Linked DNA regions of Homo sapiens: region 1 is linked to region 2. Evidence: fine-mapped expression QTL. Tissue or cell type: whole blood. Region 2 holds a variant in brackets; the other region holds the start of a gene. All regions are shown on one strand. Distances are between the middles of the regions.

The links. PIP is the estimated chance that this variant, and not a neighbour inherited with it, causes the effect.
Region 1: it holds the start of KANK1, and the variant in region 2 is fine-mapped to the expression of KANK1 in whole blood (TOPMed, PIP above 0.99).

Annotation. Positions count from the first base shown.
Region 1 is chr9:501,863-507,385 of GRCh38, forward strand. KANK1 (KN motif and ankyrin repeat domains 1) reads left to right here and starts at 2,833. Exons shown (of 12, transcript NM_015158.5): 1 at 2,833-2,892. LOC105375947 (translation initiation factor IF-2-like) reads right to left here and starts at 3,691. Exons shown (of 4, transcript XM_047424276.1): 1 at 3,398-3,691; 2 at 3,077-3,307; 3 at 1,835-2,959. The coding sequence starts at 3,691. The coding sequence ends at 2,138. RefSeq lists a silencer at 2,469-2,958.
Region 2 is chr9:538,421-543,943 of GRCh38, forward strand. All of the region lies in intron 1 of KANK1 (KN motif and ankyrin repeat domains 1), which reads left to right. Among named protein-coding and RNA genes, the nearest start is that of KANK1, 36 kb to the left of the region's middle. The variant C/T (reference allele first, on the strand shown) is at 2,852.

The sequences.
Region 1 (5,523 bases), 37 kb before region 2:
ATAAATCCAAGGGCTTCTATGCTGACATGTTTGACAATCTTTCGCATGTTATATTTCAAGAAATGTTTCACTTAGTAAACGGTTCTATTCAAAGATTGTTCTTTTGTGACAGTTTTCCAGTATAATTCTATCATCAGTAAATGGTATAATGGGTAGGGGGAGGAAGAAAGTACTGAAACATACTACAGCATGGATGAGCCTTGCAACTATTATGTTAAGTGAAAGAAGCTAGTAGCATGTTGTTATGTTCCTAGTTATATGCAACGTCCAGAATCAGCAAATCCATAGAGACAGAAAGTAAATTAGTGGTAGCCAGCGGCTGGGAGTAGGGAGGAATGGGGAGTGACTAATGGGTATGGGGTTTCTTACTGGGATGTCAATGTCTGGAATTAGTGGTGATGGTTGTGTGACTTTGGGAATATATTCAAAACCACTGAATTATACATTTTGGGAGTAAATTGTATGGCATGTGAATTGTATGTCAATAAAATAACTAAATTAAAAATGAAATTTCAAGTATAAATCCACTAAAAATTCAGAATCTGCCATACTTTTGATTGATTCGTTTTGCTTACTCTTGAGGGCCTATCAATGTTTACTGACTAAATGCAAAGAGGGAGAAATAAAGGAGAGGTGAAGGCTGGGAATTCTGGGGATGGAGAGCACTTTTTTTTTTTTTTTCTTAGAGTCGTGCTCTGTCGCCCAGGCCAAAGTGCAGTGGCATGATCTCGGCTCACTGCAACCTCAGCTTCCCGGGTTCAAGGATTCTCCTGCCTCAGCCTCCCGAGTAGCTGGGATTACAGGTGCACGTCACCACGCCCAGCGAATTTTTTTGTATTTTTTAGTAGACATGGGGTTTCACCATGTTGGCCAGGCCGGTGTTGAACTCCTGGCCTCAAGTGATCCACCCATCTCGGCCTCACAAAGTGCTGGGATTATAGGTGTGAGCCAGTGCACCCGGTCGAGGGCACTATTTATTTATTTATTTTTGAGACAGGGTCACACTCTGTAGCCTGGACTAGAATGCAGTGGCTCAATCTCTGCTCACTGCCGCCTCGACCTCCAGGGCTCAGGCGATCCTCCTACCTTAGCCTCCAGAGTAGCTGGGACTACAGGCGCGCGCCATCGCGCCCAGCTGATTTTTTTTTTTTTTTTTTTTTTTTTTTGGTGAAAACAGAATTTCACTGTATTGCCCAGAACTCCTGGGGTCAACTGATCTACCTGTCTCGGCCTCCCAAAGTGTGAGGATTATAGGCCTGAGCCACTGCGCCTGGCCGACGAGCACTTTTAAAATGCAGGAGTCTTCCTGCCTCTGATATCTCATCCCTTATCACCATGCAAACAATTCTCCTTTTCATAGAAGAGTAGACATTTGGGGCGGGGTGGTGGTGGTGGGGGATTTTAGAAAATATCTACTGCATCCAAATGCCCTACTCTACAGACGAAAAAGCAAGGCCCAGGAGGAGGAAAGAGTTTGCTTACTGCCACCCAGTGAGCTGGCAAAGGCGCTGAGATTCAAAATGAGCTTTCCTGCCTTCACATATCTTCCGGCTGCCCTTTGCCTATTCCCTAAACAGTCAGGAGCCATCAAGTTCAGGAATTTGCAGGTGTGCTTCGCTGTGAACTGTGGAAAAGCAGCGTCTTCTCCCCAGAGGCAAGCATGTCGCCTTGTGAAGTTTGATGGCTCTTCACTTGCACACTCACAAAAAAGACTGAGCGTGTGTAACGCCCTGCTGGATGTGTGCGGTGCTAGAGAGCTTGGGGGTGAGGGGAGGACTCTCTCCCTTAAGAAAATCAGTTGACTGCAGAGCTAACATTGTTTTTTGAGTAATACCTGGTTTTTATAAAGTCGTCCCTTCAGTTCCCAAGCTCCTCTTCTGTTTGTTCAAGCCACCTTCAATTTGAAAAAGACTGAAGTCACAGCTTCTCAATCCCTACTAATTTCTCATGGACCTACTGGATTGCTCCAAATCGAGTATTTGGGACTGAACTAGGAAGCCAGTTCAATCCTGAGCCCCCGAGGCAGGCGTTGGGTCTTCTGTGGAGTCCCCAGAGACCTGCAACCTTCTGAACACGCATCCTCCCCTTTCCGCCGAGGACTCTGTCCTGCAGCCGAGCCAGGGCGAATGCACGGAGGTCACAAGGGAGGTGCCCTTGGAGGCGGGAGGTTTCTGGCCGCCGGGGCGACCGTGCTGACGAGGCACCTGCAGGAAACAGAGCTCTGCACGCTCCGGTCCCCCTCACCCGGGGAGGGAGAGGAGGTACAGAGGCGCTGGGGGAGGACGTCGAGCAGGCCAGCCTCGTTGCCAGAACCCCCGCCCCAGCCGGAGATGGGAGCACCGCACCGTCTCACGGGGGCTGGATTTCTTCTCCCCTTGCGGGTGTGTGTGCGAGGATGGACGTGGTAAATACGGGTTGGCAGAAGGAGCGAACCGCGGTGGAGGAAGTTCTTCTGCTTAGTTCTCGCCGCGGCGAGGCCCGCGGGCCAGGCGCGGCGACGAAGGTGCACGAAGGTGCCCCGCGGGCCTGGTGGAGTTGCAGCGGCGCGCAGGCGCACTGAGGGCCGCCCGCGGCCGGCTCCGCGGTACAAAGAGCGCCCCCGCGGGGAGCCGGGCGTCCTCTGGGCGGAGGGAGCAGCCGGGGCTTCGCCGGCCCGCGCCGTTCTTCTCACGCGCCGCTCCGGGGCGCAGCCACAGCTGTCGCCCACCGCGGGTGAGAGGCTTGCTGGTCCGCCCCGGCTTCCCCGCCCCGGCGGCGGCCGTGCGGTTCGGGCTTTAATTCTGGCGCTTGCCAGCCGGGGCCGACTCCGCCCCCTGCGCCCCGCCCTTCCCCGAGCTCCGGGTCCGCGGCGGAGCGAGCGAGCGGCCGGCAGGTTGGGAGGAGCGGCCGAAGGTGAGTGACGCGGCGGGGCCGTGCCGCGCCCCGTGCCGCGGCGAGGTTGTCCCGGAGCGCGAGGCCCCTACCCCTGCCTCGGGCTGGCCCCGCGCGGAGCCGACTTGGCGCGCGCCGGGGTTGCGCGGCGGCCGTGGCGGTGGCGGAGGGCAGCCCCCGCGGGCTCCCGCTCGTGCGGGTGAACCCGGCGGCCTCGGGGCGGTCCTGGGGGGGGGTCCGAGAGGTGGCGTCGGCCCCGCGGCCGTCGGAGTTTGGCGCGCTCTGCAGCGGCGGCGCTCGGCCGGTCTGGAGGAGGGAGAGGCGCGCCGGGCACGGAGCAGCGAGAAAGTTCGGGCCGGGCCGGCCGGCGGGAGGGTGCGGGCGCCTGGCTACCCCGGCCCGGCGCTCTGTCCCTCGGATGCCTCTGGGCCCTTCCCTAGCCCGGGGCGGAACGGGGGACCCTCTCTGAAGCGGCTCTCCGTGGAGTTGGATGTTGCCCTTCGCGGGAGGGAGTGGCGGTCAAGACCCCTTTATCCTCGGCCCCAGAGGGGCAGGTGGCCTCGGGTCGCCCTCCGCCAACTCCGAGGTGGCTTCGGCCGGGGCTGGAGGGCGGGGAGGCGGGGGAGGGGCGTGGGCGCTGCGGCCTCTGGGGCGGCCCAACCCGGCGCGGGCAGCGTGGGTTTCCGAGGTCCCGCGGTTCCAGGTCGAGGGAAGGTGTAGGGGCCCTGAAGCGGGCTGGTCCCCGAATGTTGCGTTTTCTGTGCCGCTTTGGGCAACACGCAGTGGCGCTCGCGGCAGCCACGGCTCCTTGACCGTTCATCTCCTTCACCCGGGTCCCGTGGAACTTTCAGAGGCAACTGTTCTTGGTGGCTCTTGCGGGTCAGCACGAGCCGTGCTGCACGAGCGTGACCTAGTGAAGGCCTTGGGCGAGTTGGCGTTAACAATTTATGGCGTCCGCCAGCGCTCGCTTTCCGCACGTGGCCTCTGCGGAGGGTCAGCCCATCTTATTAAATAGTGGATTCTATTAGACCCTGATACCCGAGGCTAATAAGGAAGCTTAATCATCCAGATGTGTAATCGTGCAGTTCCTTTCCTCACCGTCATTGCCCCCCACCTCTGGAGCTGAATGGAAATGAGGGTCTGTTTGCTTATATTGAATTCCTGAGTTTATTCAAGTTCATTTTTAGGTGGCGTTAACAGCTAAGTAGCTGTTCATCTGCCAGTTTCTCCTTTCATCCAACTTTCTCTACTAAAATGTTGAGCACGTTTTATTTAAAAAAAATTGAAGTGTAATAAACATATAAATTTACTCTTCTAAGGTCAAAATTCAGTGGTTTTTAATATATCCGTAAAGTTATGAAATCATCACTACCATCTGATTCCATTTCGTTGCCCCCAAAAAGAACCCCTATACCGATTAGCAGTCATTCTTCCATCTCCCAGCCCTTCTCCCTCATTTTAAGGCAGCTACTTAGGAAGTTTTTCTAAGATAGAGACTGAGTGAGAAAACTGAGAGGTGATTAACTTTGATCCTTTTTCTGTTACTAGGTTTGGGGAAAGGTGCTGCTGAAGCAATGGAAGAAAAATTAAGTATTGGCTGTCCTATGGGGAGGTTAAAATGAATAAGGATGGAAGAGAAGCTGCCAGTAGAGGAATAATTGCCTCCTGTAGAGACCCACAAGTTGGGAATACATTTTATCCCCTTAGGGCACAGGGATGCTTTCTGGGCTCTAGACTTGCCTAGTCCATAAATCACTCTAGTCGAGGTTCTGCCTCAGCGAAAGTGAGTTCTGGGTGTGTGTGTGTGTGTGTGTGCGTGTGCGTGCGCGCTCGGCAGGGAATGTTAGAAGGAAAAAAGACTAGGCTTAAAAGTAATTTTTTAAAATATCCAAACTGGCCCCAAAGAAAGAAACCAAAAAACCACAGGCAAATGGCCACTGGAATTGATACATTCAAGACTAGTTTCATTTCATGAGTATCAGTTCACAAATAGTTCTGAGTTAATGTGTGCATACATTAACTTTTTATCCCAAGTGGGAGGAGGAGGATGGAAAAGGATCTAGTTGGGGGCAGTGCAAGGAACTGGGAAGAGGAATGGGATAATGGCCGAAAGGGGCAGTGCTTGTGGGAGCTGAGGACTGTTGAGATGGAATAACTATAGGGTGAGCAGATTCTGAAAGAGCAGAGTGGGTCTGTGAAAAGTTGGACACTTCACTCGGGCTTTTTGTTGGATAATGTGTGCATGTTTTAAAAATCATTTTTAGTAAGGAGAGTTGAAGCTATCCAAATTATGCAACATCCACTACACTTCTCACTCACCCTTCAATAAGAAAAGTCAACTTGTTTTCAAGTGTTTCGGGAAGTTTTAGGCCTGTTGCATGGGTGACAGCTTATGCCATCTTTTTTTTTTTTTTTTGGTAATTTAGAACATTGACATAGCGAGACTCCGTCTCTACAAAAAAAATAAAAAATAACCGGATATGGTGGCACATGCACCTGTAGTCCCAGCTACTTGGGAGGCTGAGGCAGGAGGATTGCTTTAGCCCAGGAGTTTGAGGCTGCAGTGAACTATGATCATGCCACTGCACTCCAGCCTAGATGACCGAGCAATATCCTCTCTCAAAACAAGATGAGCTGTACCATAGGTATACA
Region 2 (5,523 bases):
AAAAACATTTATAGCATTTCAGTAAAGATTACTCCATGATTGACAAAACAATTTTGAGGATCCTAAGAGGCACATTCTGCCTCAGGCTGGAGCAGTTTTTAAAACTAAATTGACAGCAACTAGTTCAAGTTGGAACAGTCCTAACTTAATTATAGATACCTGCAGAGGTTCCTTCAAACAGGTGGGTTTCAACAGCGTGGTGCTATCTAGCAAAAGCTATTGTTTGCTTAGTTATTTGTTTGAGAGTCAGCTTAGAACATAAGGAAGGAGTCAGAGTTGGGGTGGAATTCTGTCTCTGATTGGATCAGAGCCTCCATTTTCCTAATTGTAATATGGAAATAATGATTGTCCCTCAGAGGATGGTTATAAGGGACAACATATTTGTTACACATTTGGCATAGTAAGTACTTCATAAATGACACCTATAAAAGTTTTTGTTTGAAAATTTTCCAGCTTTTGTTTTTTATTTATTTATTTTTTGAGACAGTCTCACTGTGTTGCCCAGGCTGGAGTACAGTGACACAATCTCAGCTCACTGCAGCCTCCACCTCCTGGGTTCAAGCAATTCTCCTGCCTCAGCCTCCCGAGTAGCTGGGATTACAGGCATGAGCCACCACACCTGGCTAATATTTATATTTTTGGTAGCGACGGGATTTCACCATGTTGGCCCAGCTGGTCTTGAACTCCTGGCCTCAAGTGATCCACCTGCCTCGGCCTCCCTAAGTGCTGGGATTATAGGCATGAGCCATCATGCCTGGCTGAAAACTTTCCAGTTTTTAAATGTCATGCATGTTTTTGCTCAAGAACGCTTTGGCTGTTTGGGGCATTTTGTAGTTCCATACAATATTTTTTTCCGCTGTAAAAAATTACATTGGAATTTTAATAGGAATAGTATTAAATCTGTAGGTCACTTCGGGGAGTATGAACAGTTTTAACAGTGTTAATTCTTCCAACCCATGAATACAGGATATCTTTCCATTTATTTATGTCTTCAGTTTCTTTTAGCAATGTTTTATAGTTTTCAGCATACAGATCTTTCACCTCCTTGGTTAAATTTATTACTAAGTATTTCATTCTTTCTTTTTTTTGAGACAGGGTCTCACTCTGTCACCTGAGCTAGAGTGCAGTGGTGCGATCACAGCTTACTGCAGCATTGAACTCCTGGGCTCAAGTGATCCTCTTGCCTCAGCCTCCCAAGTAACTGTGACTGCAGGTGTGTACCACCATGCCTGGCTGATTTTTAAATTTTTTTGTAGAGACATCTCTGCGTTACCCAGGCTGGTCTTGAACTCCTGGACTCAAGCAGTCCTTCTGCCTTGGCTTCCCAAAGTGCTAGGATTACAGGTGTGAACCATTGCACACGGCCTTATTCTCTCTTGATGCTATTGTAAATGAAATCATTTTCTTTATTTTTTAGATAGTTCATTATTAGTATATATAATAGAAGTGCTACTGATTTTTATATGTTGATTTTAGTATCCTACAACTTCACTGAGTTTATTCTAACAATCTTTTGGTGAAGTTCTGAAGGTTTTCTATATATAAGATTATATCATCTGCAAACAGAGACAGAGTAACTTCTTGCTTTCCATTTTTGATGTATTTTATTTTTCTTGCCTAATAGCTCTGGCTAAAACTTCTAGTACTATATTGAATAGAAGTGGTTAAGAGTGGGCATCCTGTTTTGCTCCTGATCTTAGAGGAAAGGCTTTCAGCTTTTTACCACTGAGTATGATATTAGCTACGGGCATGCCGTATGTGGCCTTTATTATGTCGAGGTCCATTCTTTATACCTAATCTGTTGAGAGTTTTTATCATGAAAGGATGTTGAATTCTTTCAAATGATTTTTATACATCTATTGAGATGATCCCTTGATTTTTATCCTCGATTTTGTTAACGTGGTATTAGTTAATTTTAATTAATTTGCATATGTTGAACCATCTTTGCATCCCAGGGATAAATCCCATTTGTTCATGGTGTATGATCCTTTTAATGTGCTTTTGAATTTGGTTTGCTGGTATTATATTGAGGATTTTTGCTTCTCTAGTCATCAAGGACATTGACCCATAATTTTATTTTCTTGTAGTGTCCTTGCTGGCCTTGCAAAATGAGTTTGGAAGGGTTGATTCCATCCTCTTCAGTTGTTGGAAAGAGTTTAAGAAGGGTTGGTGTTAATTCTTCTCTTTAAATATTTGATGAAATTCACCAGTGAAGCCGTGACATCCTGGGATATTCTTTGTTGAGAGGTTTGTGATTTCTGATTCAATCTCCTTACTTACTATTGGTCTCTTCAGATTTTCTATTTCTGTATTATTCAGCCTTGGTGTAAGTTGTATGTTTCTAGGAATTTATCCATTTGTTCTAGGTTATCTAATTGGTTGGCATATATTTGTCTATAGTAGTATCTTATATAATCCTTTGTATTTTTGTGGTATCAATTGTAATGTCTCATCTTTCATGTATAATTTTGTCTTTTAGTTCAGCTAAAGGTTTGTCAGTTTTATCTTTTCAAAAACTCCTGGTTTCATTAATGTTCATTTTTTTCCTTCTGCTGACTTTGGGCTGTTCCTTTTCTAATTCCTTGAGGTGTAAAGTTAAGTGTATTTGAGCTCTTTCTTCCTTAATATAGGAGTTGATTGCTGTAAACTTCCTTGTAGTGCTGCTTTTGCTGCATCTCTTAAGTTTTGGTTTGTTGAAAAACGAAAAAAAAACACAAAAAAACAGAGAGCTGGAGGCATCATGCTACTTGACTTCAAAATATACTAAAAAGCTGTCATCAAAACAGCATAGTAGTGGTGTAGAAACAGACATATAGACCAATGGAACAGAATAGAGACCCCAGAAATAATT[C/T]ATATTTACAGTCGGTTGGCTCTTTGACAAAGTTGCCAAGAACACACAATGGGGAAAAGAGAGTCTTTTCAATAAATGGTGTTGGAAAAACTGGGCATCCACATACAGAAAAATTAAACCCCTTTCTCACACCATATACAAAAATCAACTCAAAATGGACTAAAGATTGGGGGCATGGCTCAGGGGTAGAGGATTTGACTGCAAAATGGACTAAAGACTTAGTAAGATCCAAAAGTATAAAACTACTTGAAGAACACACAGAGAAAAAGCTTCTTGACATTAGCCTGGGCAATGATGTTTTGGATATGACCTCAAAAGTATCACAGAAGCAAACATAGACAAATGGGATTGTGTTAAACTAAAAAAAAAATTCTGCATAGAAAAGGAAACAAACAATAGAATGAAGAGATGGCCTGTAGAATGGGATAAAATGGTTGCAGACCATACATCTGATAAGGGGTTAATATATAAAATATACAAGGAACCCATACAACTCAATAGCAAGAAAATAAATAACCGGATTAAAAAAATGAACAGGCCGGGCGCGGTGGCTCACGCCTGTAATCCCAGCACTTTGGGAGGTCGAGGCGGGCGGATCACGAGGTCAGGAGATCGAGACCATCCTGGCTAACACGGTGAAACCCCGTCTCTACTAAAAATACAAAAAATTAGCCGGGCGTGGTAGCGGGCCCCTGTAGTCCCAGCTACTCGGGAGGCTGAGGCAGGAGAATGGCGTGAACCCGGGAGGCGGAGCTTGCAGTGAGCCGAGATCGCGCCACTGCACTCCAGCCTGGGCGACAGAGCGAGACTCCGTCTCAAAAAAAAAAAATGAACAGAGGACCTTAATAGAAATTTCTCAATAGAAGACATACAGATGACCAACAGATACATGAAAAGTGCTCAATATCACTAATCAGGGAAATGCAAATTAAAACCACAGTGAGTGGCCAGATGCAGTGGCTCATGCCTGTAAATCCCAGCACTTTGGGAGGCCGAGGCAGGCAGATCACTTGAGGTCAGGAGTTCAAGACTGGCCTAGCCACATGGCAAAACCTCGTCTCTACTAAAAAATACAAAACCACAGTGAGGTATCATCTCACATCTACTAGAATGGATATTATCAAAGGCAAAAGGTAACAAGTGTGTTGGGAAAATGTGAGATAAAGGGACCCTCTTAGACTGTTGATGAGAATGTTAGTACAACCAATATGGAAAATAGTATGAGTATGGAAGTTCTGCAGAAAATAAAAACTGAACTTCCATATGATCCAGCAATCCTACTTCTGGGTATACATCCAAAGGAATTGAAATCAAAGAGATACCTGTACTTCTGTGTCCCTCGCAGCATGATTCACAATAGTCAAGTTATGGAGACAGTGGAAGTGTTCATCAGTAGATGAATGGGTAAAGAAAATGTGGTATATGTGTACACTGGAATACTCTTCACCCTTACAAAAGAAGAAATCCTGTCATTTGCAGCAATATAGATGAACCTATTCATAAATGAAATAGCCAGGCACAGAAAGACAGATACTGCATTTTCTCACTTATATGTGGTATCCAAGAAAGTCAAACTCTCACAGAAGCTGAGAGCGGAGTGGTGGTTGTCAGGGGCTGGGAGATGAGCGGTGCTTGGGAGGGCGTTGGTTAAAGGTAAAAAGTTTCAGTTAAGTTAAATATGTTCTGGAGATCTATTGTACAGTGTGGTGACTGTAGTTAATGTATACTTGGAAATTACTAAGAGATTAGCTCTCAAATGTTCTCACCACAAATAAGTGCGAGGTGGGTATGTTAATTAGCTAGATTTAATTTCACGAGGTCTATGTACATCAAACCATGTATATTGTAAATATATACAATTTTTATTTTTTAATTATAACCTTAATAAAAGTGGGAGGAAAAGTGATAAACGGTAATAAGCCCTTAAAGGTAATAAGTTAACTTGTCACCCAACGTATTTATTAATTTTTCTATACAATGTAATGTGCTTGGAGAACATTGAGGCCGGGCACGGTGGCTCATGCTTGTAATCTCAGCACTTTGGGAGGCCAAGGTGGGCGGATCACTTGAGGACAGGAGTTTGAGACCAGCCTGGCCAACATGGTGAAACCCCATGTCTATTAAAACTACAAAAAAAAATAGCTGTGCATGGTAACGGGCGCTTGTTATCCCAGCTACTCGGGAGGCTGAGGCAGGAGAATTGCTTGAACCCAGGAAGTGGAGGTTGCAGTGAATCAAGATCACACCATTGCACTCCAGCCTGGGCAACAAGAGTGAAACTCTGTCTCAAAAAAAAAAAAAAAAAAAATTGAAAATCCGCAAGCTTCAGAAGACACACTACTGCGTGTTTGTCCTTCTACGGAAGTCAGTACAGATCTCAATGACTTGTTCTCATTTCACCAGAAAATGACCATTGTGCATTATGCTGTCAGTGCAGATGGAAAACTAGCAGCAGTTTACAAAGTTTCCACTTGAAAAAACATAACTCTAATTGATTTAAAAAAGTAGTTGATTGTTGCAAGACTTGACATTTCTCTAGTTAATTTCTATGCCTGTTGTTTTGCCCCTTACCGTCTTCAAAATCTGAATCCAAATCCAGGGCTTCTCTATTAGGAGGCTCCATATCATATCTCTTTAATCCTGATAATTTCTCAGTTTTTTGTTTCCTACCT